7 linked regions of the Homo sapiens genome follow. The protein of the gene in region 6 purifies or fractionates together with the protein of the main gene of each other region. This does not show direct contact. Each region holds a gene or a part of one and is shown on either strand. Other genes may lie near its edges. The genes, in order: EMC2, RAP1GDS1, DBT, EI24, ANKRD13A, RALB and OCIAD1.

Region 1 (4,160 bases), on a different chromosome or scaffold from region 6:
TGCCTGATATACTTTTAAAAATTATTTTCCTGTTTCACACATGTATACTAATAATAGCTTTTACTAAATGCTTATTACGTGTCATGCATTGTTCTAAATGTGTTACATGTATTAACTCATTTAATCCTACCAAAACCCTAGGAAGAAGGAAATTATTATCAACATGCTAGAGCTGAGAATACTGAGGCACAGAGATGTAAACTGAATCCCAGGCTGTGCCACTCCAGACAGCCTGTACTCTTCAACCACTACATATGCTGCTTATATGCATTACACATCACATTGAAAAACTGAAGATGTCAATGGTAACATGAAAATGTGTACAGCAGTCACACCCAAAGGGACTGAGGAAAAAAAATACACCCTGCAGATTACCTAATAATTACAGCATTTTAGATTTATGAAGGACCACATATATATATGTATGTGTGTGTGTGTGTGTGTGTGTACTCTCATCCAAGATCATGCAGCTATTTAGCCCTTTCCATTTTTAAATTCAAAACCTAGCATTGGTTCTTGACACATGATAGGTATTTAATAAGACTGAACAAATGATTGAATAAATGTCTAAAACAAATGTGTTATGACTACCTACCTAATATATATTTATCACTCGAAAAGAAAAGGGAAAATTTGTCTCTACCTTAAACACTTTATCAAAAGACAGTTCTCTTCTAAATGTGTTCCTTTAATTATTAATAGTATGATGCCAAAAATTCATATTGAGACTAAGAATAAAAGTTCTTAGACATTTAAATGGGTTGAGCACAACTGTGACACTGGTGCATAAAGCAAGATAAAATGGGCAGGTAGTAGCAGCTCTTAGGGTAAAATGAATACCAAGATATTTTCTCAAAAATCAATTAGCATCACATATGAGAAAAGGACTCCTTCCCCCAATTTTATAAAGTACAGTATCAAACTAATTTTGTGGATAAAATATAGAATTAAATAAAATTAGAGCTAGAAGGAGCTCAACAGATGGTCTAGTCCAGCTTTTCTAGGCCATTGTTAGGCCACGCAGAAAGTGACTATTTCCTCAGTCTTGTCAGGGATAATACATAGCCAGTACTATTCTAGGTGCATAGAGAAGTTAATTCATTACACACAGTGACTCAACAAGACTAAGAATAGAGAAGTAAAAATAATTTGAATCTACTTAAAACAGAATAACAATTGTTATTACAATATTAGAGTCAGTACTAGAACTAAATAAAGTTTTCTTCTCTTCCTTACAAAAGTATATATAACTAAAGGTTACAGTATTTGGTACTGTGTGTTACTTTACCAACATCACAATTTTTCCTTAAAGAATTGTGGTAATTCCGTTGATATGGAATTTTAAAAGGCTGGACTTATGAAAAGGAACTATAATCACAATCATAATTAATGTATAATACTAACTGTTCCTTGCTGTATAGTATCTAGTTTCAATAACAAATGAAGTAAAAAAATTTGTCTTTCATAATGTGAATGTATTTTTGCTTACAAAGGTTGGGTATCCCTTAACCAAAATGCTTGGGACCAGAAATGTTTCAGATTTCAGAAGTTTTCAGATTTTAAAATATCTGCATTCTTACTGGTTGAACATCCCTAACGCAAAAATCCCAAATCCAAAATGCTCCAATGAGCATTTCCTTTGAGCATCATGTTGGCACTCAAAGTTTCAGATTTTGGAGTATTGTGGATTTCAGATTTTCAGGTTATGGATACTTAACCTATAATACATATTGGTAGTGCTGACACAAAAAAATTAACTGTAGTTTTAAAACTTTAGAACAAGTGTCTCAATATGGTCAATGGATGTAACATATATCCCTGGAATAACTAAAAACAAACTATAAATCAGAAACAAACTTATAAAAGTAACTTAAAAATATAAAAAGGTTACATGGCACAATTCTATATCCCTTTTTCTCTCTATAGAAACATTAAATAGGGCTATATGAAAATTATACTATAGATATTTATTTGGAGTTTAAAAATTCCAGAGCTGGGCACAGTGACACACCTGTAGTGCCAGCTACACAAAAGGCTGAGGTGGGAAGAGTACTTTAGCCCAGGAGCTCAAGTCTAGCCTGGGAAATGTTGTAGACTCTGTCTCTTAAAGAAAAAAAATAGTTCTAGATATAGGCTACCAAAGCTGCCTGCGACCTATTATACTTAAAAAAGCTTACAACTGTTCATATGCAGAAAGGAATATCGAATGTTAAATATATCTGACATTTTCGAAACTGCTACGTTTTTGCCACTGTGTCCCCAAGACTGGTGCTAAAACTGATATCCTACGATAATTTAACATTCCATCAAAAAATTCCTGCCTCCTATAATGACTTGCTCAAACATGTCAAATGAATCAAGTGAACTGATTGTAATTTTCACAGTTTCAAAAAAACCTGTAGATATGCATTTCCAGTCACCTAAACATAAATATTCCTTCTAAGTGTTCAATTAGAAAAAAAAAATGGTCATTTTGTAACTAACTAGCTTTAAGACCAAAAAGAGTTTTGTGATACTAGATAAAAGGGTAGGCTGACCATAATTATCATTTTCTCTAAAAAAATATTTTTAGGTGCTCCTACATCTTTGTAAATCTTCATTTTTTGAGATTTCTCAGTTCATTTCTCTTAAGTGTACATTCACCTCTGTTTCAATAAACTCTTTAGATTCCAAACAAAGCAAAACTGAAGGTGGTACCACATGGTGAAAAAAATAAGTAAATTTAATGGTAGGTTAAAAATAAGGTATAACCTAAATTTGATGATGAAATAAATATTAGAAATACATGCAAAAAAATAAAATTGCAAATGAAGTAGGGGGAAAAGGTGATATATTTTTAAGCTATTAAAGGACAGCAGACATGATAATGTTAAAAATTGATGAATCTGATTTTCTAAAAATGTAAAGTTTCTATAATTTTAAGAAGTCAGTATTTAAAAAGCATATAACAAGGATATACTTTTGACAAATGGTTGCTCTCCTTTATAAAAAGAGCTCGTAAAAATGAACTAAAAAGGTAGAACCAATTTCACCTATCAAACTTGTAAAGATTAAAAAAGAATCATAGTATCCAGTGTTGTTAAAGAGGGACTCTAGTAAATGCTGGTGTGCAAGTAAATTGATGTTACCATTCTAGGGAACAATCAGGAACTATTTATCAAAACCACAGAAAATGTACATCTTATTTAATCAAGCAATTTTACTTCAAAGAATTTAACCCAAGGAAACAAAATAAAAATGATCACTACAGCATTATATATAAAAATATAAAACAACCTTTATATCTCCCTAGGAAACTCGTTAAAAATACTAGGGTAAATTAGTAAGATGAAATAATATAAAGCCATTCAAAACACACTGTAGATTGTTACAGTGACAAGAAATTTTTGAACAAAATATAACTAAGGGAAAGTATAAACTACGGAAGATAATTTTATTTTGGGCTTTTATTTTAAAAGATAAGGAAGGACAAAAACCAAACAAACTATAGTTAACTTAGGATGCTGGAATTACATGTAATTTTTGTCTTGGTCTTTATGCTTTACTGTGTTTCTCAAATTTTCTGCATTAGGTATTCCTTTAACTTGAAAAAAAAAATTTCCTTGTTGATTTGAAATGTTTTAAAATGCTTTTAGTCAGAAAATCTTTAGAAAGTACAAAAAATGTTAAATGACTGTCACCTGTTTTAGAAACAAAATAAAATTAATGCTAATTATTTTTACTATACTCTAAAAATTCAATTTCATGTATTTAAATATAAGTATTATATACTGTTTCACATGTGTAAGAAATCATGAGTATGTTTACATATGTGTACATACAAGCATATCATCTATACTGAATGTGATTCAGGAAATAATTTCCTAATCAAAACCAGAATATCTGTTTCAGAGTATAGCAGAGAACTTGAAAAACAGTTCCTAGAATATAGTATACATTCATTAAATTACAGCTATTACTTTTATTTTAGCTCCCACTTTCCTTAGACTTATGCAAATAGACTACCTCAATCCTCTAGATCACATTATATATATAGACCACAGACAATAGACAAATGTCTTCATTCTGTTTCTCATCAGTTGTTTGTAGTATGAGAACAAGGTTAAATATTCATGCACAAGAAAATGCGCATGAGAATCTGATTCTATTCTGTCAAAAAG
Region 2 (4,160 bases), on a different chromosome or scaffold from region 6:
TCATGAGTGAATTCCTATTCACAATTGCTTCAAAGAGAATAAAATACCTAGGAATCCAACTTACAAGGGATGTGAAGGACCTCTTCAAGGAGAACTACAAACCACTGCTCAAGGAAATAAAAGAGGATACAAACAAATGGAAGAACATTCCATGCTCATGGGTAGGAAGAATCAATATCGTGAAAATGGCCATACTACCCAAGGTAATTTACAGATTCAATGCCATCCCCATAAAGCTACCAATGACTTTCTTCACAGAATTGGAAAAAACTACTTTAAAGTTCATATGGAACCAAGAAAGAGCCCGCATCGCCAAGTCAATCCTAAGCCAAAAGAACAAAGCTGGAGGCATCACACTACCTGACTTCAAACTATACTACAAGGCTACAGTAACCAAAACAGCATGGTACTGGTACCAAAACAGAGATATAGATCATTGGAACAGAACAGAGCCCTCAGAAATAATGCCGCATATCTACAACTATCTGATCTTTGACAAACCTGAGAAAAACAAGCAATGGGGAAAGGATTCCCTACTTAATAAATGGTGCTGGGAAAACTGGCTAGCCATATGTAGAAAGCTGAAACTGGATCCCTTCCTTACACCTTAGACAAAAATCAATTCAAGATGGATTAAAGATTTAAATGTTAGACCTAAAACCATAAAAACCCTAGAAGAAAACCTAGGCATTACCATTCAGGACATAGGCATGGGCAAGGACTTCATGTCCAAAACACCAAAAGCAATGGCAACAAAAGACAAAATTGACAAATGGGATCTAATTAAACTAAAGAGCTTCTGCACAGCAAAAGAAACTACCATCAGAGTGAACAGGCAACCTACAAAATGGGAGAAAATTTTCGCAACCTACTCATCTGACAAAGGGCTAATATCCAGAATCTACAATGAACTCAAACAAATTTACAAGAAAAAAACAACCCCATCAAAAAGTGGGCGAAGGACATGAACACACACTTCTCAAAAGAAGACATTTATGCAGCCAAAAAACACATGAAAAAATGCTCATCATCACTGGCCATCAGAGAAATGCAAATCAAAACCACATGAGATACCATCTCACACCAGTTAGAATGGCAATCATTAAAAAGTCAGGAAACAACAGGTGCTGGAGAGGATGTGGAGAAATAGGAACACTTTTACACTGTTGGTGGGACTGTAAACTAGTTCCACCATTGTGGAAGTCAGTGTGGCGATTCCTCAGGGATCTAGAACTAGAAATTCCATTTGACCCAGCCATCCCATTACTGGGTATATACCCAAATGACTATAAATCATGCTGCTATAAAGACACATGCACATGTATGTTTATTGCGGCATTATTCACAATAGCAAAGACTTGGAACCAACCCAAATGTCCAACAATGATAGACTGGATTAAGAAAATGTGGCACATATACACCATGGAATACTATGCAGCCATAAAAAATGATGAGTTCATGTCCTTTGTAGTGACATGGATGAAATTGGAAATCATCATTCTCAGTAAACTATCGCAAGAACAAAAACCAAACACTGCATATTCTCACTCATAGGTGGGAATTGAACGATGAGATCACATGGACACTGGAAGGGGAATATCACACTCTGGGGACTGTGGTGGGGTGGGGGGAGCGGGGAGGGATAGCATTGGGAGATATACCTAATGCTAGATGACGAGTTAGTGGGTGCAGCGCACCAGCATGGCACATGTATACATATGTAACTAACCTGCACAATGTGTACATGTACCCTAAAACTTAAAGTATAATAAAAAAAAAAATAGTAATACCCTGGGGAAGGAATTGCATTCCTGGGGGGAGGTCTATAAATGGCCGCTCTGGGAGTATCTGTCTTATGCGGTTGAGATAAGGACTGAAATACGCCCTGGTCTCCTGCAGTACCCTCAGGCTTATTAGGGTGCGGAAAAGATCCCGCCCTGGTAAGTTTGAGGTCAGACCGGTTCTCTGCTCTCGAACGCTGTTTTCTGTTGTTTAAGGTGTTTATCAAGATAATACGTGCACAGCCAAACATAGACCCTCATCAGTAATTCTAATTTTGCCCTTTGCCTTGTGATCTTTGCTTTGCCCTTGCCTTGTGATCTTTATTGCCCTGTAAAGCACGTGATCTTTGTGACCTACTCCCTGTACACTCCCTCCCCTTTTGAAATCCCTAATAAAAACTTCCTGGTTTTGTGGCTCAGGGGACATCACGGACCTACCGATATGTGATGTCACCCCTGGAGGCCCAGCTGTAGAATTCCTCTTTTTGTACTCTTTCTCTATTTCTCAGATGGGCCGACATTTAGGGAAAATAGAACATACATTGAAATATTGGGGGCTGGTTCCCCCAATAGATACACCTTACTCATCTTTGTATCTTAACCTAAACTGGCCTATCTAAATGCTTTGAGTGTAGTTGATACTCCTTAAGATAAATGCTAGTCAACTCACCTGAAAAATACATTTGCAACACAGATTTTTTGTTTAAGAGACAGTGTCTCGCTCCGTTGCCCAGGCTGGAGCGCAGTGGTATGATCATAGCTCACTGCATCCTTGAACTCCTGGGCTCAAGCAATCCTCCTATCTCAGCCTCCTGAGTAGCTGGGACTAAAAGTGCATGCCACCATGCCTGGCTAATTTTTAAACTTTTTTTGTAGAGACAGGGTCTCACTATGTTGCCTAGGCTGGTCTTGAACTCATGGCCTCAAGCAATCTTCCTGCCTTGGCCTCCCAAAGTGCTAGGATTACAGGCATGAGCCACTGTACCTGGCCAGAAATTTTTAAATTTAAACTTTATTTTTTCAGTTGGATTTTATTTTAGTCATTGGTTTCCCTAAGCTGTATATGCATCCATATATGGCAATGGCAGCTTCAGCTTATCATTTAGGAAAAATAAAGACTTTTAAAAATAAATACTTAAGACTTTCAGGCAATTTTAATGTGTTAAAATTTGGCTTTTTTGAATCACTAGGATCACTGATCTTCTTTTGAATATTATCTCAGAATACACAGAGTATTCAACCTGGAATATTTCTTTAAAAGGTACACTTGTACTGTGCCATGCTAAAAGTAGGGCGTTTCCTTGGTTACAGAATGCTAGGGCTAGAGATGTGTGGTGACTAGAATTAAAAACTATGATGAAAAAGCCTTAAAAATACTAAAATCCTTGAACTATACAAATCCCAACTTCTAATGCTGAAATCACTCTCCTTCGTGTACTGGGAAAATGAAGGATGATACATGCAAAGAATTAGTCCAAAAACAAGCCTTCAATGGTATCATCCTATCCATTGTGCAATTATAAAACAGATGTGAAGGCAGAGGGGAAAACAGTAATAAATATCAACACATTGTTATTTTGAAATACTGCAAGGAAAGTTATAGGTTATTTTATGGCCTAAAATTGACTGAAGGTCACAGTAAAATTTTTACTTTGCCAAAACACCAATGAGATAAAAAACAAATTTCTCCCTAAGAAATAGGACCTAAGACATTTAAGAAATTTTAAATGTGTCAATATTGTAGTTTTAAAATTTTAATTAATTTTTTTTTTTGAGACAGGGTCTTGCTGTGTTGCCCAGGTTGGTCTTGAACTCCTGGCTCAAGCAATCCTTCTGCCTTGGCCTCTGAAAGTGCTGGAATTACAGGCGTAAGCCATCACTCCCAGCCTAAATGTCTCAATGTTAAAGTTTACAGATAATCTCTTCTCACAATTTGACTGAAATCAAATACCTGAAAACAAATATATAGGAGGCTTAAACTACCTTAATTAGGATTAGCAAGACATTCTGCCAAAGCAGACAGCCCAGCACATTTACCAAAACCATTCTGTCCAAGGACAAGTATCTTTATCACCACTGTTTACACACATATGTATGAATGTACACTTGTATGTATCATGTATGCATCATATATAGGTATTTTAAAACTTTTTTTAAAGAGTGAAAGAAAACCACAAATGCAGAGAAGTGCATAAAATATCCAAGTTAAGTTTAATATATTATTAGAAAGCAAATAACCATGTATCTATCACCTAGATCAAGAAATTCATTGCCAACAACTCAGGAAGCCTATCTCTGCATTTCTGTTTCTGATAACAAACCCCTTCCTTCATTTGTCTCAAATCATCCTGGTTATTATGGTAATCACTTCTATACTTT
Region 3 (4,160 bases), on a different chromosome or scaffold from region 6:
ACACACAGGACATTTTAAACATTCACTATTTGTAGTTAGCTTTCAAAATAACTAGTTCTGATTTGTTATTTATAAACTCCTGGAATGATTAACTTCCAGAAGAGTGGCTTTGCAGGAAAGCTGTTAGGGAAATACATGGCTTGCATTCTTTTGAATTTTTTATATAACACAGCATTTAAAGCAGTTACCTGCTATGTTATTGCATTTGCCACTGAGTGTCATGATGCAGTCAGTGTTCCAGCTTTGAAATTAGTGACTTTCAGTGTAATGTAATGAAGAGAGTAGTAAGAGGAAGGGTTTAACTGAGAGAGTAAAAGACATTAGAGAACCTTCCATTTTAGTTTCTTTAAAAAAAAAAAAAAGGATGAAGAGATTTGAGAATTTAAATAAATGAATAACAATTTAATGCTTTTCAGGCTTTCAAAAAGCAATGGTCAAGACTATGTCTGCAGCCCTGAAGATACCTCATTTTGGTTATTGTGATGAGATTGACCTTACTGAACTGGTTAAGCTCCGAGAAGAATTAAAACCCATTGCATTTGCTCGTGGAATTAAACTCTCCTTTATGCCTTTCTTCTTAAAGGTGAGATTCATTCATTTCAAACAAGGCTTGAGTAGGACATTTATTTGTTTGTTTGTCTTTTTGAGACAGAGTTTTGCTCTTGTCACCCAGGCTGGAGTGCAATGGCACAATCTCGGCTCACTGCAACCTCCACCTTCCGGGTTTAAACAATTCTCTTGCCTTAGCCTCCTGAGTAGCTGGGAATACAGGCACCTGCCACCACGCCTGGCTAATTTTGTATTTTTAGTAGACACGTGGTTTCGCCATGTTGGTCAGGCTGGTCTTGAACTCCTGACCTCAGGTGATCCACCCCCGCCCCAGCCTCCCAAAGTGCTGGAATTCCAGGCGTGAGCCACCATACCTGGCCCCAAGTAGGACATTTAAATTTTGCTTTGCCAACATGCAATATGTTGACTGTGGCCTTGAATAAAAATATTACTTTTCGCAACATCAGATAGTTAGAAAATGTGCCATTTCTTTGTTCAATAGGAAATTATAAAATTGAGATTTCTGTACTATATTTTTAGCTGCTTATCTTTGAGCTAGGTAGAGACAATTCTGCCAGTTAAGTAAAGCCTCTGATCCTAAAAGGATCACTCCAACCAAGTCTTGGTTTGAACTAAAATGAGACTTGATATTAATTTTGCAATATCACTGACATATATTTAATATTTATTTTCATTTACTCAACCAACTTATATTGAGGATCCTGGGAATCATTTCTAGTGCTAAGCCTTGGGACCAGTATAAAATGGAGTAAGACCATCAGCTAACCTTGAGCAGCATACAGTCTAGCTCACATTAGTGACTGTGCAGCAGCTACCATGTGCCAGCCTCCATAGTAAGCATGCTGTATACATTATCTCTCTCTTTTTTTTTTTTTTTTTTGGTATGAATCTCATTTATTGAAAAGATTATTTCTCACCTTTCTCAAATTGAAGACTGCAAAAAATAAAAGCAGTGCTTCATTGAGTTGTCATGAGCCTGGGGCAGGAGCAGCAGCGCTGCCTCTCCACGCTCCGGGAAACCGCAGCTGGCGTGTGCCACATCGGTCCCACCTCGCTTTACAAAACAGTCCTGAAGCTTAATCAAATAAAACTATTGAACACAACATTTACATTAGAAAAAGAGAGCTGGGTGTAGGAAAGGCCGAGCCTGGTGTTCCCTTTAAGCGAAGGTGGCTCCACAGTTGGGGCATCTTCGCTCCCTCAAGGCAAAACAGCAAATGAACCCAAAGGGGAACAGGATGATGGCCAGGAAGATGCCCAGGAAGGTGAAGCAGTCCTGCAGCCCCCCGACCCTGCAGACGGGACAGCCTCCCACGACCACGATAGAGTTGGTAGGATAGCGGATGACGGTCCAGCTGTGGATGTTGTAGACCCTGGGATGGTGGGTGGGTGTCCGTGTGACGAGGTAGGAGTAGGGCGGCTGCGGGGGCGCGGCGGGGATGGCGCCGTAGCCGTGCGGGCCTCACGCGTAGTCGCCCTGGCCGGCCTCCAGGTTGTAGGCGGGCGGCCGCTCCTGCAGCAGAGTCTTGTGGTCCATGGCGGCCCGGCTCGGCTCTGTCGGCCCCGGCGGGGACGCGGCGCACGCCCCGGGTGGCTCGGGCCCCTCTGAGGCAGACGCGGGGCAGGGCCCATTATCTCTTAATTCTCAGAGTAACCCTGACATGTAAATATTACTGTCTCCACTTTCCATTTAAGGAAATTGGGGCTCAGAGAGGTTGAGAAACTTGTTAAGGACTTACAGCTAACAGGTGGAGAAGCTCTTTCAGGTTCTGGTCTGTTTTACTCAGAAGGACATACTGATGTCTGTAATGCCAACATGTCCAGTCCTTTCTCTACACTGCACCAAGACTGGTCTTCCGTAAATCAAATTACTGTAATATTCTCTGATTCTTTTCAGTGGTTCCCTTTCATTACCTTCAGGATAATTTGTATGCCATACTCCTTAGTGTGGCATACAAATGTGTTATAAGTCTCTGCTGCCTGCCTCTCCATTCTTACCTCACTCCCTCATATTAAGGTACCCATAATTGCTGGAATACACAATTCCACCTGAAGTGCCCGTTCTTCTCGATCAAACACCTGCAAATCCCAAACTGTGGTCAGGTACAGACTCCTTCTGTGGCTGTCACTATTTGAATTAAATACTTTTGTTTCCCACTGTTAACTTATCTCAGTGCATTGAGTGCTTACTCAGTTTTCTCTTCACTTACTCACTTACTGGGCGCTGAGCCTCATGAGGCAGAAACTATTCTTCTTTATCTCCCTTTTTCTTTCTTTCTTCTTTTTTTTTTTAGAAAGGGTTCACTTTGTTGCCCAGGCTGCTGGAGTGCAGTGGCACAATCACAGCTCACTGCAACCTTGAACTCCTGGGTTCAAGTGATCCTCTGCCTCAGCCTCCCGAGAAGCTGGAACCACAGGTGTGCACCACCACACCTGGCTAATTTTTTTTTATTCTTAGTAGAGATGTGTCTCGCAGTGCTGCCCAGGCTGGTCTTACAGGGATGAGCCAGCATGCCTGGCTATTTTGTTTTAAAATAAAACATAAGTTTCAGAACATTCGAAAAAATACTACACAGTATTGTAGAGGGGGAACAAATGACCTAATCCATTGACACATACCTTGTATTTTCTTGGACAAAATTTGGATTATACTCAAATATTTTTATATGTAACAGTTTAGACTAACCTTAGGGGTTTTTAGATAAAGACTATTAAAATTACAGTTATTGAATCAAATGCTTACTAAAACTTTCAAGTTGGCTGGGCGCAGTGTCTCACGACTGTAATCCCAACACTTTAGGAGGCCAAGGCAGGCAGATTGCTTGAGCTCAGGAGTTCAAGACCAGCCTGGGCAACATGGTGAAACCCCATCTCTACAAAAAATACAAAAGTTACCTGGGCATGGTGGCACACGCCTATAGTTCCAGCTACTCGGGAGGCTGAGGCAGGAGGGTCACTCGAGCCAAGGACGTTGAGGCTACAGTGAGCTGAGATCATGCCACTGCACTGCAGCCTAGGTGACAAAGAAAGACCCTGTCTCAAAAACAAACAAGAAAAACTTCCAAGTCATAAAAATTAAGGAACTCGTAGCAGTTCTTTTAATTATATTTTTCTTCAGTTGATCTACTCTCTTAACCTGTCCTAACTAATGAAAATGAAATGTCTCTATATATTTAAACTTTTTTCTTAACTCTCTAGTTCAAGAATTTGATTTTTTTCCCATCAAGACCCCGATGCACTGAGAAGAATAACACAATGCATGTAAAGAACTTTAACAGGGACCAGACAAGGGCAGTGGGGGAGGGAATTCTTTTTAAGAATGATCTTAAGCATTTTTATTTTGCTATCTTTTAAATTCAATACAATGCATGGCCACCACATGTAAGGTATGAAACTTGATTATTAGATCCCAAAAACAGATTATCAAGAACATTTTGGGTACAGTTAGGGAAATCTGAATATGGACAGGAGAGAAATGGTATTAAGTGACAAAAGGGAGAAGGCAGCAGAGAGGGAAAATATAAATGCTATTCAGTGAGACTTGAGCTGTAAAGTAAATGTTCAGGACATCTCTGCCCTTCAGCTGGCCA
Region 4 (4,160 bases), on a different chromosome or scaffold from region 6:
TATGTGAGGTCATCATGTGGAAATGTGCATGAAGTAACTTATCTTTAAAATAAATATTTGCCTCCATTATGTTCCATCTGTTTCCAGATCCTTCATGATGAGAGATTTGGGGACACTTCTCTCTCCTGTGTGTAGTTGATAGTTTGGTGGTGAAGAGATGGCTGACAGTGTCAAAACCTTTCTCCAGGACCTTGCCAGAGTGAGTACATCTTGTTTATAGGAATTCATCTCTCGGCCTTTTTTTTTTTTGCTGAAGGAACCATCTAGGAAATCCTTTAGGGTTTTTGGAACTTTTATCATATTTCTTGGGTTCTTTACATAAAGGTTGTTATTCTAGACCACACTACTCAAGAAATAGGTATTGTTCTACATCTTGCAGACAGTCTTGCAGGTGCTTGGAAGACCTCTTCGGTGGATGTCTCCAGTATTGGGACCCTAATCATCTTGGCTTCAGAGCTTTTTTTTTTTTTTTTTTTAACTTTTTATTTTGGAATGTGTTTAGATTTACAGAAAAGTTATAAGGTAGTACAGAGAGTTCCTGTATGTCCTTCATCAGCTTCCCTTAATGTTAACATATAACCGTGGTATATTTGTCAACTAAGAAATGAACATTGGTTCAGTACTATCACCTAAACTAATTAATTCAGATTTAAATTAGAGAACCTATCTTTTTTTTTTCCCAATTTTTCATTTATTTAAAAATTTTTCTGTTAAAAGTAGAGACGAAGTTTTGGCATGTTGCCCAGGCTGGTCTCAAACTCCTGGGCTCAAGTGATCCACCCGCCTTGTCCTCCCAAAGTGCCGGGATTATAGGAGTGAGCCACTGCACCTGCCAGAACCTTTTTTCTCCCCATTCTACAAGCTGTGCACGTGAGGAGGATACTCTAGGAAAATGCCCTATAAAGATCTGGTTAGGACCCAGTCATCCAAATTACCAATAGCACAAAAGTCTGCTACTTTTAATGTATGTCTGAAGCCTAATAATGTCTCACTTGTAACCCCCTCTTATATTTCCACTAGCATGAAAGAGGCCAATTCTTGGAGTGGGGAGGTTCTTTCTTTAGTGGAAGAGTTTAAAAGGTTACCTTTATGGCCAGGGGAGGTGGCTCACAGCTGTAATCTCAGCACTTTGGGAGACCAAGGAGGCAGGATTGCTTGAGTCTGGGAGTATGAAGCAGTAGTGAACTATGATGGTACCAGTGCACTATAGCAGGGCAAGAAAGTAAAAAGGTTATTACTTTTGAGTAAAAGAGGGAGGATTGAAAGAGTATCTTAGAAGGTCTAAAAAGACTTTATGCATATGATCTCCTTTTTTTTTTTTTTTTTTTTTTGACAGAGTCTCACTGTGTCGCCCAGGCTGGAGGGCAGTGGTGCAATCTCGGCTCACTGCAACCTCCACTTCTTGGGTTCCAGTGATTCTCCTGCCTCAACCTCCCAGGTAGCTGGGATTACAAGCACACACCACCACGCCTGGCTAATTTTTATATTTTTAGTAGAGACGGAGTTTCACCATGTTGGCCAGGCTGGTCTTGAACTCCTGACCTCAGGTGATCTGCCCACCTTAGCCTCCCAAAGTGCTAGGATTACAGGCATGAGCCACCGTGCCCAGCAGCATATGATCTACTTTTAACATCTTTACCTTGTTGTCTTGCCATTCATGTGCTGTAAAATTTCAACCCTCCCAGCCTGGCTAACACAGCAAAACCCCCTCTCTACTAAAAATACAAAAAAGATTTAGCCAGGCGTGGTGCACATGCCTATAATCCCAGCTACTCAGGAGGCTGAGGCAGGAGAATCGTTTGAACCTGGGAGGTAGAGGTTGCAATGAGCCAAGATCATGCCACTGCACTCCAGCCTGGGCGACAGAGTAAGACTCTGTTTAAAAAAAAAAAAAAATTCAACCCTGTGTTGGTTCTACAGTGTGCTATTTACATGTTTGTCTGCCCCACTGGACTGTAGATGTCTTAGAGGTGGGGATCCTATCATCCTAGCATGTACTAGGCCCTCAGCCATTTGAACTTAACTATCTTAGATAGTTGGAGTTTCCTGAGTTAAAAGCAAAATTAAGAGTAAAAATTACTCAGACAAAAAAAGATCAAAGGCACACTGTGCCAATTTATGTTCCTGTTAACAGATAATACATCAACTTGCCCATTTCTCTGTATTCCAGCTATTATTTCTAAAATTCGTTTTGTCTGATAACAGTAGACGAGAATGCTATCCATTCTTAAATCCAGCTTGGCCATTGCTTCCAGAATAATTTTTTCTGCCTTCTCATGAAGTTGAATGCCCCAGTGCTAACACTCTACTTGGGCCATACATCTGTTGTGGCACTTACTAAACTATGTGTGCTTGCTTCTGCAGCACATGTACTAAAATTGGAACAATACAGAGATTACCATGGCTCCTGTGCATGACACACAAATTCATGAAATGTTTCATATTTAAAAACTTTTTTAAAAAAAAACCTTTAATGTAATTTTTTGGTTTACTTGTGTGCTTTTCCTACTAAGTTATAAGCTTCTTGAGCATTTCTATATGACAATATATAGCTTATTGAAGATACTCAGTACGTGGGTGGGAGATGGATGCATGAGTGAATTCTTAGCCTTTGGGAGGCTTAGGCAGGAGGATTGCTTGAGGACAGGAGTATGAAACCAGCCTGATCAACATGGTGAGATCCCCATCGCTACAGAAGAAAAATTTAAAAGCCAGGTGTGGTGGTGCACATCTGTACTCATAGCTCTTTGGGAGGCTGAGGCAGGAGGATCATTTGAACCCAGGAGTTGGAGGCTGCAGTGAGCTATGATTGAGTCACTGCACTGTAGCTTGGGTGACAAAGCAAGACCCTGTCTCAAATAATAATAATAATAATGATAGCCTTTTCTATAGGGAATCAAAGACTCCATCTGGGGTATTTGTACCATCTCAAAGCTAGATGCTCGAATCCAGCAAAAGAGAGAGGAGCAGCGTCGAAGAAGGGCAAGTAGTGTCTTGGCACAGAGAAGAGCCCAGAGTATAGAGCGGAAGCAAGAGAGGTAAGGAGTGCATGCCTGATATCAAAATGTCCAAGGGAGGGAAGACCTTACATAGTGACTTGATGTTTCAGTGCCATTTTATTTCTTTTGTGCTTTTTCCCAGAAAAATGTTGCAAGTGATTTCCCCCCAACAACATTGACTTAAACTAGGGTCTAACAATAATCCTTGCTAAAAATGTCATGGTGTTAAATCAGAAAGCTGAATAGAGAATCGCAAAATATTATTTGGTTTGATAGATACTTCTAGGGAAGCCTGTGTGGATTTATGTATTAATAGAAGAACCCTGGCCCCACACTTTCTCTTAATCTTTTCCATCATCAGACTTTAGAAAATAAATTATTTTTCTTTTAAAAGCTGGTTCCATATATATACACATTTTTTTTTTTTTTTGAGACGGATTCTTGCCCTGTCACCAAGCTGTCACCTGAGATTGCCGTGGTGCAATCTCAGCTTACTGCAGCCTCTGCCTCCCAGGTCCAAGCAATTCTTCTGCCTCAGCGAACCGGCTGGCTGGAAGTACAGGTGCGCACCACCACGCCTGGCTAATTTTTTATATTCTTTAGTGGAGACAGGGTTTTGCCATGTTGGCCAGGCTGGTCTCGAACTCCTGACCTCAGTTGATCGCCTACCACGGCCTCCCAAAGTGTTAGGATTACAGCCGTGAGCCACTGCGCTTGACCATTTTTTTAGTCTTTTCTCATTGACTGACATTAGAACATTGGGAGAACATGAGGCACTGAAAAATAATACAGTACCCACAAAAGATAAGATATAAAATGAACTACTGAATGACAATTAGGAAATAACTTATGCTTTATAAACTAAATACATGTGATCTTTTCCAGTGAGCCACGTATTGTTAGTAGAATTTTCCAGTGTTGTGCTTGGAATGGTGGAGTGTTCTGGGTAAGTTCTTTAAATTCCAGGTGCCTTATAAGCATCTTCAGATTGTTGCTGGGTTGATAGCTATGAACTGTTTTCTTGAAACACTGAGACAAATAGTTTTCATCTGCTGATGTACACTTAGAAATATAACTCAGGAGTCTGTGCATCTGCAGAGATTTTATTCCCACTCAGGAAAGCACACTTATATGTAAGCAAACGTCACAGCCCTGAATATA
Region 5 (4,160 bases), on a different chromosome or scaffold from region 6:
GCTGAAAGGTCTATTTGTCAGTGAGTGACAGCTGTAAGACTTGCTGGAGCTCAGCCTCTTCCTCCTGGAGCCGGAGCTCCCATTCCTCCAGCTCTTTGGCAGAGAGCTCCATGGCTAGCTGCAAGTCATTATCAAAACGGCTTGTCTCGCTCAGGGCGCTGGGGCACAGGCCTTCTGTGCTGGTGAGGAGGCTCTCCTGGATGGCCCTGGGTTGGAAAACAGATAAAAAGGGAGAGTCACTACTATCATCATCATGGTGGCAGCAGTAACTACATTTCTTAACCGCTTACCAAGGGCACACTGTGCCAGGCATTTAATATGCATGATGCCAATTAATCCCACATAACTGGCGGTGTAGGTGTTGTATACGGGTGAGAAACCCCACAATCTTGCCCAAGACCACCCAACCAGTAAGTGATAGGGCTGGGAATTGAACTTGGATCTGTTTTAAAGCAAAACTCAGGTTCTTCATCAACAGGCTCTCATAGACACCTTAAGTATAAGTCTTCGTAAAATGAATCCTCGCGGTTTTTCCCGTAATCTCTGGAGCTGTTCCTCCAAACTTCCTTATCTTTACAATTATATAAACTTCCCACTGAGGACATCTAGGCCCTGTGATCATACATCATTCATAGAAGATCAAACCAATCAGAAAAAACTGACTCAGTACGTTTCCCCCAATGGCACTGACCTGTGAACCAGTCAGCAATTCTATCACCCATTCCTGGAAACTTGCTATCAAGAGTCTAGAGTTATTATAAGTAACTGCCACAAGAGGAAGCAAGAGAGCCAACACTTTAGTCTTTTTTTTTTTTGAGACGGAGTCTCGCTCTATCGCCCAGGCTGGAGTGCAGTGGCGCGATCTCGGCTCACTGCAAGCTCCGCCTCCTGGGTTTGCCATTCTCCTGCCTCAGCCTCCCGAGTAGCTGAGACTACAGGTGCCTGGCACCATGCCCGGCTAATTTTTTGTATTTTTTTTAGGAGAGACAGGGTTTCACCGTGTTAGCCAGGATGGTCTCAATCTTCTGACCTCGTGATCCGCCTGCCTCGGCCTCCCAAAATGCTGGGATTATAGGCGTGAGCCACCGCTCCTGGCCTACTTTTTCTAGTCTTTCCTGCCAGTTTGTGGCACCGTACATCTGCCTGAGGACCAAATGCACAGTGCCACGCGTCTGCTCGCCTGTGTCCAGGCCTGTGTTCACCCTGGTTTATTCCAGAGTCACGTCAGTCAATCACCTCTCATACTGGGCGTCATAGGTGTTTGTCTGGCTGATCCCTCCATTCGAAGCTGGTCCTGAAAGTTCCTGGCAAAGACAAATGTGATAGACATGAATACGTCTTAGGAGAAATTGGTGCCATTCTGGTAAGGAAACGATGGCAGCAAGAACCAAATTAAAAGTCTTTCCATGACCATTATCAATAGTGCTGTGTGAAAAGCTAACAGGGACTTGGGTTACCTCAAAAACAACACCTAAGTGGGAGGTAGTAACATGCCACAGCCTAACTCACAGCCACAACCTTCTCATCCTTTGTACAAAATCAGTCTCTTAAATACAGCTAACCCACGTGGAAGATATACACAACGAAAAGCAAAAACACAGCTGACCTTGGGCAAAGTTCAAGTGACCAAAGCAGGTTTTTGTTTTTTTAGAGACAGGGTCGCACTCTGTTGTCCAGGCTCAAGGGTAGTGATGTGATCGTAGCTCACTGCAGCCTTGACCCCAGGGCACAAGAAATCCTCCCACCTAAGCCTCCTGACTAGTTGGGAATACAGGTGCACACCACCATACTTGGCTTTTAAAATTTTTTGGTAGAGGCTAGGCATGGTGGCTCACACCTCTAATCCCAGCACTTTGGGAGGGCAAGGCTGGTGGATCACTTGAGGTCTGGAGTTTGGGATCAGCCTGGACAACATGGTAAAACCCCGTCTCTACTAAAAACACAAAAACTAGCTGGGTCTGGTGGTGCGCACCTGTAATCCCAGCTACTCGGGAGGGTGAGGCATGAGAATCACTTGAACCTGGGAGGCAGAGGCTGCAGTGAGCCAATATTGTGCCCCTGCACTGCAGCCTGAGCAAAAGAGTGAGACTCTGCCTCAAAAATTAAAAAAAAAAAAAAATTTGGTAGATATAGGATCTCACTATGTTGCCCAGGCTGGTCTCAGACTCCTGGGCTCAATCAGTCCTCCCATCTTGGCTTCCCAAAGTGCTGGGATTATAGGCATGAGCCACTGCACCCAGCCAGTAATTCTTCTAGGGCAAGATTAGAAGACACAATTCAATACTGGTAGTCTTTGACTTTGGCTACTTCCCTTGTTAAAACTTATGGTCAACAAGGTTTATGAAGCTACTTGGGAGCTGGCGGGGGGAGCTAAGCTCACTTACATAGGGAAAGGAAAAGCATACCAGGCTGATGGTGATGTGCAGGGGTCTTCTCCCAGGATGCCTCCCAAAGGGAACATGCTTGCTTTGGGGTCTGGCTCGGAAAACTGAATGGGTCTGGGAATGGGGCCATGGTGGTGGCAGGGGGAAGTGGAGGAGGTAGACTCACATTACACAAGCACTAAGACTCAGGAATAGAACCAGAAAGCTATAAGCTTGAACCAGTGAGGACGCTGGAGTGTGAGCACTGTTCTCAAAGCAGCAGCCCTGTGAGGGCAGGGGCTGCTTCCCAGAGAATTCCCAGCACCTGGCACAGAGCCTGGCACAAAGAAGGTACTCTGCAAATATCTGAATGAAGAATGGAAGAAAAAGCCAATTAACAAATAAATGGACTGCAGGAACCCAGGACACACCAGAGGGTGCTGGAGGCAGACCAGACCCTACCCTAGTAGAGCCAGGAGGCACAGAAGGAAGGAGATGGAAGGAGTTGATGTTAGGGGAGGAGGACCTCAAGCCTTGGACTGTCCCAGGTAGGTGAGGCATGGAGGGAGAACCAGATATGACAATAAAAGGCAACTGTTCTACTGGGCACAGTGGTGCATGACTTTAGTCCCAGCTACTTGGGAGGCTGAGGTGGGAGGATCTCTTGAACCCAGGAGTTTGAGGGTGCAATATGATCATGCCGGGGAACAGCCACTGCACTCCGACTTGGGCAACATAGAGTCACACACACACACACAAAGCCTACTGCTTACACAGGTCTGTCCTGTCCTTCATTTTCTGTTTCACTAGAGACCCAGAGAGAGTTTAGGGAGATGGTACCCTTTGTGGAGGAAGTGGGATTCAAATCCACTTCACTACCTTCATCCGAGACTACTGACACACAGGTAATCCTTCAGGAAAAATATGATACTGCTTCAGTGCTAGAAAATGATGAAGCACATCTCAAAAAGTACAGAATTACAAGCTATGTGCGTGAATATGAGGAAAAGGAAAGTCTGCCTGAAGACATCTTGTGAATGGTGCTGACTGGGATTATGTAGATGGTCTCTTACATAACAAGCTTTTGTAAGAAGACCAGATGCACAAAGTATAACCTATGCAAATACCATGAATGTGTCAAACTTGATATTTAGAATAAATCTTTCAGATTAGCCAAACACTGAGGCTAACCCAGAGGGTAAGACCTCCCACGCCCTGCCATTAGAGTATTCTGATAAACACACCTGGCTCCTGCTGGACTCCAGCAGACTTTGCTGGATGGCAAACTGCATTATCTCGTAATCTTCATCTTGCAAATGCACATTTCTGCCATTGTCTTGAACATAGTAAGATTCGGGAATTTCAAACACAGATTGATCAACCTCAAAGTTTGTGATGTGGGAAGCTGAAACAAAAGGCAACCGTCCAGTGTCTGAGTTCATTACATTTCCACTCCAACTTTTTGCAAAAATGTTGTACATTAGAAAAAAAAGAAAGGCTCAAAATTATAACAATCAAGGCTTACTATTATATGAGAGATTCTGAGGAAGCATGACAGAAAAAAGTGACAGAATACAGCTTTTTTCTTTTTCCTTGATTTTAGTGGAAACAACGAACACAGTCATAAAAAAATACACAAGACTATAAAATGAAAAGCGCAGATTTCTCCCCCTAAACATATACGCACAGTCACACCAATGTGTTTCTTCCTTTTGCAGGAAGATATATGGTAAATATATAAAAGTATATATAAAATATCTGAACACTTAAAAATGATAATAATTAAACAAATGCCTG
Region 6 (4,160 bases):
GTGTCAAAGAGGGACGGTATATGTGCTTACTAGAAGCAATTGCAAAATTCTAGCCAGGTCTCAATTTCAAGTTTGTCACTTTAAAAAAAGTAGCTGCTTATAATTTTCCTTAGTGTTCTCCTGGCTGTTTTTGTTTTTGGTGATGGTGGCTAGTTGTTTTTTAGTTGAAATCTAAATGCAGAAAAGAAAAATGCCATTAATTGATAATTACCAATATATTGTTTTCATTGTTGCTTTTGTCAGTGCTTTGTGGGCATTTTTTATATATAGCATTGTTCCAAGCTATACGGCATGAGATGAAGGAAATATAGTAGTTTGGTCCTGCGTGCCTGGCTGCCTGTAAAGTTTGCCTACCTTTTGAATGAGTTTTCTGTTGCTGCATAACAAATTTCCCCAAACTTAGCAGCTTAAAACAACAGACATTTATGATCTCACACAGTTTCTGAAGTTGAAATCTGGGGACAGCTTGGCTGGGTGCTTCTGGCTCATGGTCTCTCCTGAGGTTGCAGTCATCTGAAGCTCGACTGGGACCAGAGGATCTGTTTCCAAAATGGCACGTTCACATGGCTGTTGGCTGGAGGCCTCAGTTCTACACCATGTGGGCCTATGCACAGGGCTTTTCACAACATAGCTTTTCTCCCCAGAGCAAGTGATCTGACGGGGGTGGGGAGAGAGGGAGAGAATGAATATGATAATGATCAAGATGGAAGCAGCAGTATATTCGTGGCTGATATGGTTTGGCTGTGTCCCTACCCAAATCTCACCTTGAATTGTAATCCCCATAATCCCCATACGTTGTGGGAGGGACTCGGTGGGAGGTAATTGAATCATGAGGGCAGTTTCTCCCATACTGTTCTCCTGATAGTGAGTTCTCACGTGATCTGATGGTTTTACAAGCGTCTGGCATTTCCCCTGCTGGCACTCATTCTCTCTCCTGCTGCCCTGTGAAGTGGTTCCTTCTGCCATGATTGTAAGTTTCCTGAGGCCTCCCCAGCCCTGCGGAACTGTGAGTCAATTAAACCCCTTTCCTTTATAAATTACCCAGTCTCGGATATTTCTTCATAGCAGCATGAGAACAGACTAATCCAGTGTCTAATCTTGGAGATGGCATACCATCCCTTCTACCAGCATTCAGACCAGACCTGGCACAATGTGGGAAAGGACTACAAGAGGGGAGGTCAGGGCACATCAGTATTCTTGGAGGCTAGCCACCACAACTTTTTTAAGGTTTAGTCCAGACATCATTGAGAAAATCTTTCTTTCAGATGTTTACTGAAGTATACTGTAGGAGATGGAAAGACAGCTGAGGTCTTTAGTATTGTAGAAGCTTTAATACTATATGTGAAACTTTTATGTTCTTTCTTCCGGTTCTTTGTTAGATGCTGGAATTAGCCAAGTATGCAGTAGCTTTGGAAATAGAAATTCAGATCTTGCTGGTCCCTAAACCAAAAGGAACATCTGAATTTTTTTCTTTAACCCCAAAACAAGTTGGTAAAAAAATATTGCCAAAGTAATCTCCTTTGATGAATGGCTTAAAATTAGTCATTCATTATCTGTGTGTTCTTAAAAATAAAACTCATTGGCAAAGTAGCTGAAAAATTTTGGGGAACCTAAACCCTCTTACTCCTCCCCATTATTTTAAAACTTTGGATACTGCTTGTTTGCCTAGCAGTTCTTCAGTTCACTTTTGAGACCCTCATACATTTTAATTATTGACCTGGATAGAAGGGCGCTATTCTTTTAGCTCCAGATGAAATCTTCCTGAAGTGCCTATAGGTGGAGAGAAGAGTTTCTGGATCCTGAGCCTGAGCCTGGCTAAATGACCTCTAAGTCCCTTCCATCTCTGAAAATTCTATGATCCTTATTTTTTTTTTATAACGAATATCCTTTGAGTTGTGCATATTTATAACAAAATATTTCATTGATCATGTTAAATTGCAACCTCAGAAGACAAGCTTTTCTGAGAATAGCTTTTGTTCTTCCCAATCCAGTTGAAGGTTGTTAGAGTCACTGTTAGGCAGAGTTGAAAAGTCAGCACTATTTGCACTTCCTCTGCTTCCTATTTTTGGCCCCTTGCCCATCCTCTGCCCTAATTTATGAGCTAGTATCTTTCTTTTCTTTCATTCTACTTTCCTTGTAATCCCCCTCCTTCCTCCCACAGGAAGGATTGGTGGCCAGTCCTTTACTGCTGATAGCTGATGCTATTGTTAGGAATGAATTTTAGCCAATGTGTTACCTCTAGTAATACTTGCATGGCAAACCTTTTAAAAATCTCAAATTATATGTGTTCATGTAGTAAACACTGCCATTTTTTAACATCCTAAGTAGCCCTAAAATTTAGTCACTTTCCTCATGTGCATTGTTGTCTCCTTAGTCCCCACCGTGTTGCCGGCCTGGCCTGGTGCATACCCACATCTGCTCTTGACCCCTCTGTTTTTCTACTCTGTAGCCAGAATTACCTTTTCAACATTCAAGCCTAATTATGTTACCCATTGACTTGAAACACTTCAGTGGCTTTCCAGTGCTTTCAGTCAAAGGTCCCAAATCCCTCAACTTGGCCTACACTGGGGTCTTGAATGATCCCGCCCTTCCTTACCTCCTCAGTGTCATCTTGTACTGGGCTCTGCCTCTTTCTCTCTGCTGCAGATAGCTGTGAAGGTCTTTCTCGAGTTTCTTGAGTGGACTTTGCTTCCTCTTGCTTCAGGCCTTCCTGAATGCAGTGTGTGTGTGTGCAGGCACGCGTGATTGGGGGTGGGGGAGTGTGGAGGAGTCCTAGGTAGGAAAGCGCTTGGCACATTCACAGGGCTGGAAGAAGGCAAGGAAAAGGCCACGGAGGCCACGGCCAGTGGAGGGTTTAGCTGCCGCTCATGGTGAGCCTTTAAGGAGCGTTAAGCACAGTTTCATGTGCAGTGTTAGAAGCCCCATTGGAAGGGCTGTGTGGAGAACAGATTGAAGAGGGGCTGGAGTGGTAATGAGGGGTCACTTAGGAAGCTGGGGCTGTTGAATGAATGGTGGCAGAGAAGATGGAAGAAGTGCATGGCTTTGAAATGTATGTTGGAGATGGAATAGCTAGAAATGGTCATGAATTGAGCTGGGGAGAGGCAATGGGAGTCAAAAATGACTTCCAGGTCCCTGGCTTTGGTAACGATACGGATACTAGCGTGTCCGGAATTGGTGGGTTCTTGGGCTCACTGACTTCAAGAATGAAGCCGCGGACCCTCGCGGTGAGTGTTACAGCTCTTAAGGTGGCACGTCTGGAGTCTGTCCCTTCTGATGTTCAGATGTGTTCGGAGTTTCTTCCTTCTGGTGGGTTCGTGGTCTCGCTGGCTCAGGAGTGAAGCTGCAGACCTTCGCGGTGAGTGTTACAGCTCTTAAGGTAGCGCGTCTGGAGTTGTTCGTTCCTCCCGGTGGGCTCGTGGTCTTGCTGGGCTCGGGAGTGAAGCTGCAGATCTTCGCGGTGAGTGTTACAGCTCATAAAAGCAGCGTGGACCCAAAGAGTGAGCAGTAGCAAGATTTATTGCAAAGAGTGAAAGAACAAAGCTTCCACAGCGTAGAAAGGGACCCCAGCGAGTTGCCAATGCTGGCTCGGGCAGCCTGCTTTTATTCTCTTATCTGGCCCCACCCACATCCTGCTGATTGGTAGAGCCGAATGGCCTGTTTTGTCAGGGCGCTGATTGGTGCGTTTACAATCCCTGAGCTAGATACAAAGGTTCTCCACGTCCCCATCAGATTAGTTAGATACAGAGTTTCCACACACAGGTTCTCCAGGGCCCCACCAGAGCAGCTAGATACAGAGTGTCAATTGGTGCATTCACAAACCTTGAGCTAAACACAGGGTGCTGATTGGTGTATTTACAATCCCTGAGCTAGACGTAAAGACTCTCCACGTCCTCACCAGAGCAGCTAGATACAGAGTGTCGATTGGTGCACTCACAAACCTTGAGCTAAACACAGGGTGCTGATTGGTGTATTTACAATCCACGAGCTAGATATAAAGACTCTCCACGTCCCCACCAGACTCAGGAGCCCAGCTGGCTTCACCTAGTGGATCCCGCACCGGGGCTGCAGGTGGAGCTGCCTGCCAGTCCTGCGCCATGCACTTGCATTCCTCAGCCCTTGGGTGGTCGATGGGACTGGGCGCCGTGGAGCAGGGGGTGGCG
Region 7 (4,160 bases), on a different chromosome or scaffold from region 6:
AAATGGTTTTGGCAGATCAGGAAGAAACAGAAGGAACATCTAAGACCACGTGGAGTATGACACACTGTGGATGAAAGGGGATACAGGCAGCCCTCCATATGTACATGTTCTGCAACCAACTGCGGATAGAAAATATTTAGGAAAAAAAAAACTGCATCTATACTAAACATGTACAGACTTGTTTCTTGTCATTATTCCCTAAACAATACAGTATAACAACTATTTACATAGTGTTTACATAGTCTTAGGTATTATAAGTAATCTAGAGATGATTTACAGTATACAGGCAGATATGCACGTAAACTTTACTAGGCCGTTTTATATCAGAGACTTAAGCTTTTGTGGATTTTGGTATCCTCTGGAGGGTCCTGGAACCAATCCACACAGACACAAAAGGACCACTGTACAAAATGTCAGGGATTTTGATTAAATGCAAAATGTCTTGGTGGATTCCAAATTCTTTTCTTAAAGTCTCTCTCAATTTTTACCTTTTTTTTGAGACAGAGTCTCGCTCTGTTGCCCAGGCTAGAGTGCAGTGGCGCCATCTCAGCTCACTGCAGCCTCCGCCACCTGGGTTCAAGCGATTCTCCTGCCTCAGTCTCCTGAGTAGCTGGGACTACAGGCACGCACGACCACGCCCGGCTAATTTTTTTGTATTTTTAGTAGAGATGGGGTTTTATCATGTTGGCCAGGACGGTCTCGATTTCCTAACCTTGTGATGCACCCGACTCGGCCTCCCAATATCACTTCTACCGTACCCTCAAGTAGCCCAAAGTCTTCAACTGCACCTAAACCCAAAATCTCTAAAAAACTTCCTCCTCTTCATAACCTAATCCAAATTATAATTTCTCCTGGCTCTACTTCAGCTATTTAATGGATTTTTCACTCCTCCCTGCATGATTTTGTCTCTTCAGTTCAGTCCTGATTGCCTCTCCCAATAGTTATGCCTATTTGTCTTCATCATCAGGTCCCTCCTTCCTGGTATGTTCTTTCTTCTCATTTAATCTAAATCCTGCCCATCCTTCAAAACCCACTTCTTTCAAGAAACTTTCCTTGATTACAACAGCCCTACAAAGATCTTTCTTCTTTGAACACCTACAACTCTTAGAGTCTCTACTATACAATTTAGTAGCTTATTAAGTATGTAATTAAATTTTCTATTTGCTTCAACATATGTTCACATCCATTTGTTTCCTCCAGTGAACTACTAGCAGCTATTAAATTCTTTTGTGTAACCTTCTGCATACCTAGCTCCAATCATTATTAAATGACACACTGGATTAAAATAGATAAAAGAAGCAGAACAATAATAAACACTGTAATTTCATCCCTGTGCCAGTTTTTCCTACAAAGAATGTAATTCAAGTGGGGTTTTTTTTGTTTTGTTGTTGTTGTTGTTGTTGTTTCACAATACAGAACCAATCTCAGTCTATAAAACAGCTTAGTCTTAAGGACATATAAGTGCATACATCTTGACTCGCTTCTATGTTTAAGATTTTTGTCATGGTACTGTATTGTAATGAAGTTCTTCAGAAGTTCCTTAAATAAATTTTTACCCCAAAAATCCTCTCATTTGCCTCCAAAACTACTTTTATCAACTAATTGTGTCAAAACTAAGTACCATACATCATATCCTAATGTGAAAAGGCTAAATCTTCCAATCATTAAGTCACATTTTTGAAGGAGCCAGTTAATTAAAACAATAGGCCTCCAGGCCATCCTAAGGTCACCATCCTTTTCTGGGACACCTTCCCATTACCAGATAGATAGTTCATGAAGTAAAGGAATTAAGCAACTCTACTGCTTACTCCACTACATTTTAAATGCAGGACTCAAGACATTTAATACTCAATCTAAACTCAATTCCACTACTGTACTATTTGAGCCAATAGACTTTAGGACAAGAAAGTCTCCTCGGTGGCTCGTTAAAAATAGATCACCTGCCAGACCCCTGAGATTCTGATTTTTTAAATAATGCTAACTCACCGCCACTCATCCGCCCCAGGTGATCAGACAAAGCTGGTTTAGAGAGCTACTGATCTTTAAATCATTATATAAGAATCACTTCGAATTTGTTAAAACACAGACTCCTGGTCCCCATGAATGTGCATTCTAACAAGCTCCTAGGCAATAATGTTGCTATTGGCCCACCTAGACCAGGTTTGCCCTGCTAATACTGGTGTTTAGTTACCTTCTTGCTCTTGCAGATTGTTAATGATGCTATTAGTGCAGGAGAAATTCTCAAGTCATGATATTTGAGCCAGTGGGTCCACAGAGATAAAACGTTTAAATTCATCAATGAATTTCTACATAGTGTTTAATATGATACATTGTTATCTTTACTTTTTCTAAAGACCTGGAAAATACCACAAAACAAACATGGTATCCAAAATGCTAAATAAATTCAAATTTTAAATATTTACCTTTACTAATTAATCCTTGAGTAATCAACATACTTGTTGCAGCCAAAGGCACAGCTATAGGAAGAAAAAGACCTTGTTAACATCAACAAAAGTAAAAGATTTTGTCTAAAGTTCATTAGATAAATGAATAGCAGTAAAACCATCTAGGAATTATATTGCATAACTAAGACCTTTAAAAAAGACTGTTCCATTTTTAAAAGCTGTACTGTATACATAGTGGAAAAATTAAAGGAGCATTTTAAATTTAAGAAAACATCACAAAATATTAAACAATATAATTCATGAACCATCTAGGCTTAGGTTCCAAATAGCCAGCTGTTCATCAACAGCATCAACTAAGACAACACAGTAAAAGTGACTCAAAATTACTTCTGAAGTAAGAGAAGGGGAAAAAGTTAATGAAGGAGAGGTAAGAAACAAGTTACAAGTAAGAACCACTACTGAGTAATGACTAAATTCTGTGCATCATGCTAAGCGCCTTATGTGCATTATCTCATTTATTATACTTTTTATCATATTTCTATAAGGTAGATAATGTTATTACCACCCTTTTAAAGATAAGGAAACTGAAGCTTAGAGATGTTAAGTAATTTGCTCAAGGCCAAACAACTAGTTGAATGGTTGGTTACAGATTCTAATAAAATCTGTCTGATACCAGATCTCAAGCTTTTAAGCTCTAGTATACCATCTAAACCAAAATACAAAACATATTTGACCGTAATCATACGGTGGCTGGGGCAAAAATTAAAAAGCACATATTTTAAACACTTATGTTCTTTCTTCTAAACTAGTGAACTCCTTAAACTATATGAAAATATTACATCTATATATATATATGCCTAAAACCGAGAGTGAAAAATCCAAAACTCATAATCTCAAAGGGGGCTATAACTTAAAAACAGCTATGAATCACTGTTCTTTACACCAGCACTGTCTAACAGAATTTTTTATGATAATGGAAGTTGGTCTTTGAGTGACCAACCCTGTGATCAATTTGGTCTTGGTACTTGACTGGTAAACAGTTCCCCCCATTGATATGCGTAATTGGCTCACTGTGCCCAAACTGTTTGTACAAATACAGTTCATGCCAAACATCTGCTTTCATTCTAGGAGTCTGGAATTTTGGTACCTGTTAGGCAGAGGGTGAATAAGTGACCAGCCCCCAATAAAAACTGTGGGCACTGAGTCTCTAATGAGTTCCCCGGGTAGATACAACTTCACACATTGTTATGACTAGCTGTTGGAGAAATTTACACTCCCTGGGAAGAGAACTCTTGGGACCTGGTTTCCGCCGGACTTCACCCCATGCTCCCTTTCCTTTTATGATTTTGCTTTATATCCTTTCACTGCAAGTTATTTTAAAGTTAAATTGCTACATGTGACTACTGGCTGCCACACTGGACAGTGCTGTTCCAGACCTGAGGTTGGCAAACACGTTCTATGAAGAGCCAGATGGTAAATATTTTGGGTTTTGTGGGCCAATCTCTGTCCCAGTTACTCAATTGCCGTTTTAAAGCAAAAGCACCGAAAGACAATCCAAAAACACATGAACGTAGCTGTGTTCCAACAAAACTTTATTTTTAGATGCAAACATATGAATTTCATGTAATTTCACACGTAATGAAATATTCTTTTCCTTTGATTTCTTAACCATTTTATCTTATTTTATGTTTTTAGACAAAGTCTCACTCTATCACCAAGGCTGGAATGCAGTGGTACAATCTCATCTCACTGCAG

Evidence for each region.
Region 1: the proteins of RALB (region 6) and EMC2 purify together in Homo sapiens (affinity purification with mass spectrometry; one large-scale study listed by BioGRID and IntAct). This does not show direct contact.
Region 2: the proteins of RALB (region 6) and RAP1GDS1 purify together in Homo sapiens (co-immunoprecipitation; 2 studies listed by BioGRID and IntAct, with this or other methods). This does not show direct contact.
Region 3: the proteins of RALB (region 6) and DBT purify together in Homo sapiens (affinity purification with mass spectrometry; 2 studies listed by BioGRID and IntAct, with this or other methods). This does not show direct contact.
Region 4: the proteins of RALB (region 6) and EI24 purify together in Homo sapiens (affinity purification with mass spectrometry; one large-scale study listed by BioGRID and IntAct). This does not show direct contact.
Region 5: the proteins of RALB (region 6) and ANKRD13A purify together in Homo sapiens (affinity purification with mass spectrometry; 2 studies listed by BioGRID and IntAct, with this or other methods). This does not show direct contact.
Region 7: the proteins of RALB (region 6) and OCIAD1 purify together in Homo sapiens (affinity purification with mass spectrometry; one large-scale study listed by BioGRID and IntAct). This does not show direct contact.

Annotation. Positions count from the first base shown.
Region 1 is NC_000008.11:108,470,843-108,475,002, reverse strand, and holds part of EMC2 (ER membrane protein complex subunit 2), read right to left. Parts: intron 4,150-4,160; coding exon of another isoform or gene 4,020-4,149; exon of another isoform or gene 3,840-4,019; intron 1-3,839. UniProt on the Homo sapiens protein: Part of the endoplasmic reticulum membrane protein complex (EMC) that enables the energy-independent insertion into endoplasmic reticulum membranes of newly synthesized membrane proteins.
Region 2 is NC_000004.12:98,410,843-98,415,002, reverse strand, and holds part of RAP1GDS1 (rap1 GTPase-GDP dissociation stimulator 1), read right to left. Parts: intron 1-4,160. UniProt on the Homo sapiens protein: Acts as a GEF (guanine nucleotide exchange factor) for the Rho family of small GTP-binding proteins (G proteins) that stimulates the dissociation of GDP to enable subsequent binding of GTP.
Region 3 is NC_000001.11:100,211,240-100,215,399, reverse strand, and holds part of DBT (lipoamide acyltransferase component of branched-chain alpha-keto acid dehydrogenase complex, mitochondrial isoform 1 precursor), read left to right. Parts: intron 1-416; coding exon 417-583; intron 584-1,449; exon of another isoform or gene 1,450-2,177; intron 2,178-4,160. UniProt on the Homo sapiens protein: The branched-chain alpha-keto dehydrogenase complex catalyzes the overall conversion of alpha-keto acids to acyl-CoA and CO(2).
Region 4 is NC_000011.10:125,572,371-125,576,530, forward strand, and holds part of EI24 (etoposide-induced protein 2.4 homolog), read left to right. Parts: intron 1-87; 5' UTR 88-157; coding exon 158-199; intron 200-1,085; exon of another isoform or gene 1,086-1,204; intron 1,205-2,892; coding exon 2,893-3,038; intron 3,039-3,884; coding exon 3,885-3,945; intron 3,946-4,160. UniProt on the Homo sapiens protein: Acts as a negative growth regulator via p53-mediated apoptosis pathway. Regulates formation of degradative autolysosomes during autophagy.
Region 5 is NC_000012.12:110,033,405-110,037,564, reverse strand, and holds part of ANKRD13A (ankyrin repeat domain-containing protein 13A), read right to left. Parts: intron 3,769-4,160; coding exon 3,608-3,768; intron 1,305-3,607; coding exon 1,237-1,304; intron 207-1,236; coding exon 11-206; 3' UTR 1-10. UniProt on the Homo sapiens protein: Ubiquitin-binding protein that specifically recognizes and binds 'Lys-63'-linked ubiquitin. Does not bind 'Lys-48'-linked ubiquitin.
Region 6 is NC_000002.12:120,255,648-120,259,807, forward strand, and holds part of RALB (ras-related protein Ral-B), read left to right. Parts: intron 1-4,160. UniProt on the Homo sapiens protein: Multifunctional GTPase involved in a variety of cellular processes including gene expression, cell migration, cell proliferation, oncogenic transformation and membrane trafficking.
Region 7 is NC_000004.12:48,840,953-48,845,112, reverse strand, and holds part of OCIAD1 (OCIA domain-containing protein 1), read right to left. Parts: intron 2,478-4,160; coding exon 2,424-2,477; intron 1-2,423. UniProt on the Homo sapiens protein: Maintains stem cell potency. Increases STAT3 phosphorylation and controls ERK phosphorylation. May act as a scaffold, increasing STAT3 recruitment onto endosomes. Involved in integrin-mediated cancer cell adhesion and colony formation in ovarian cancer.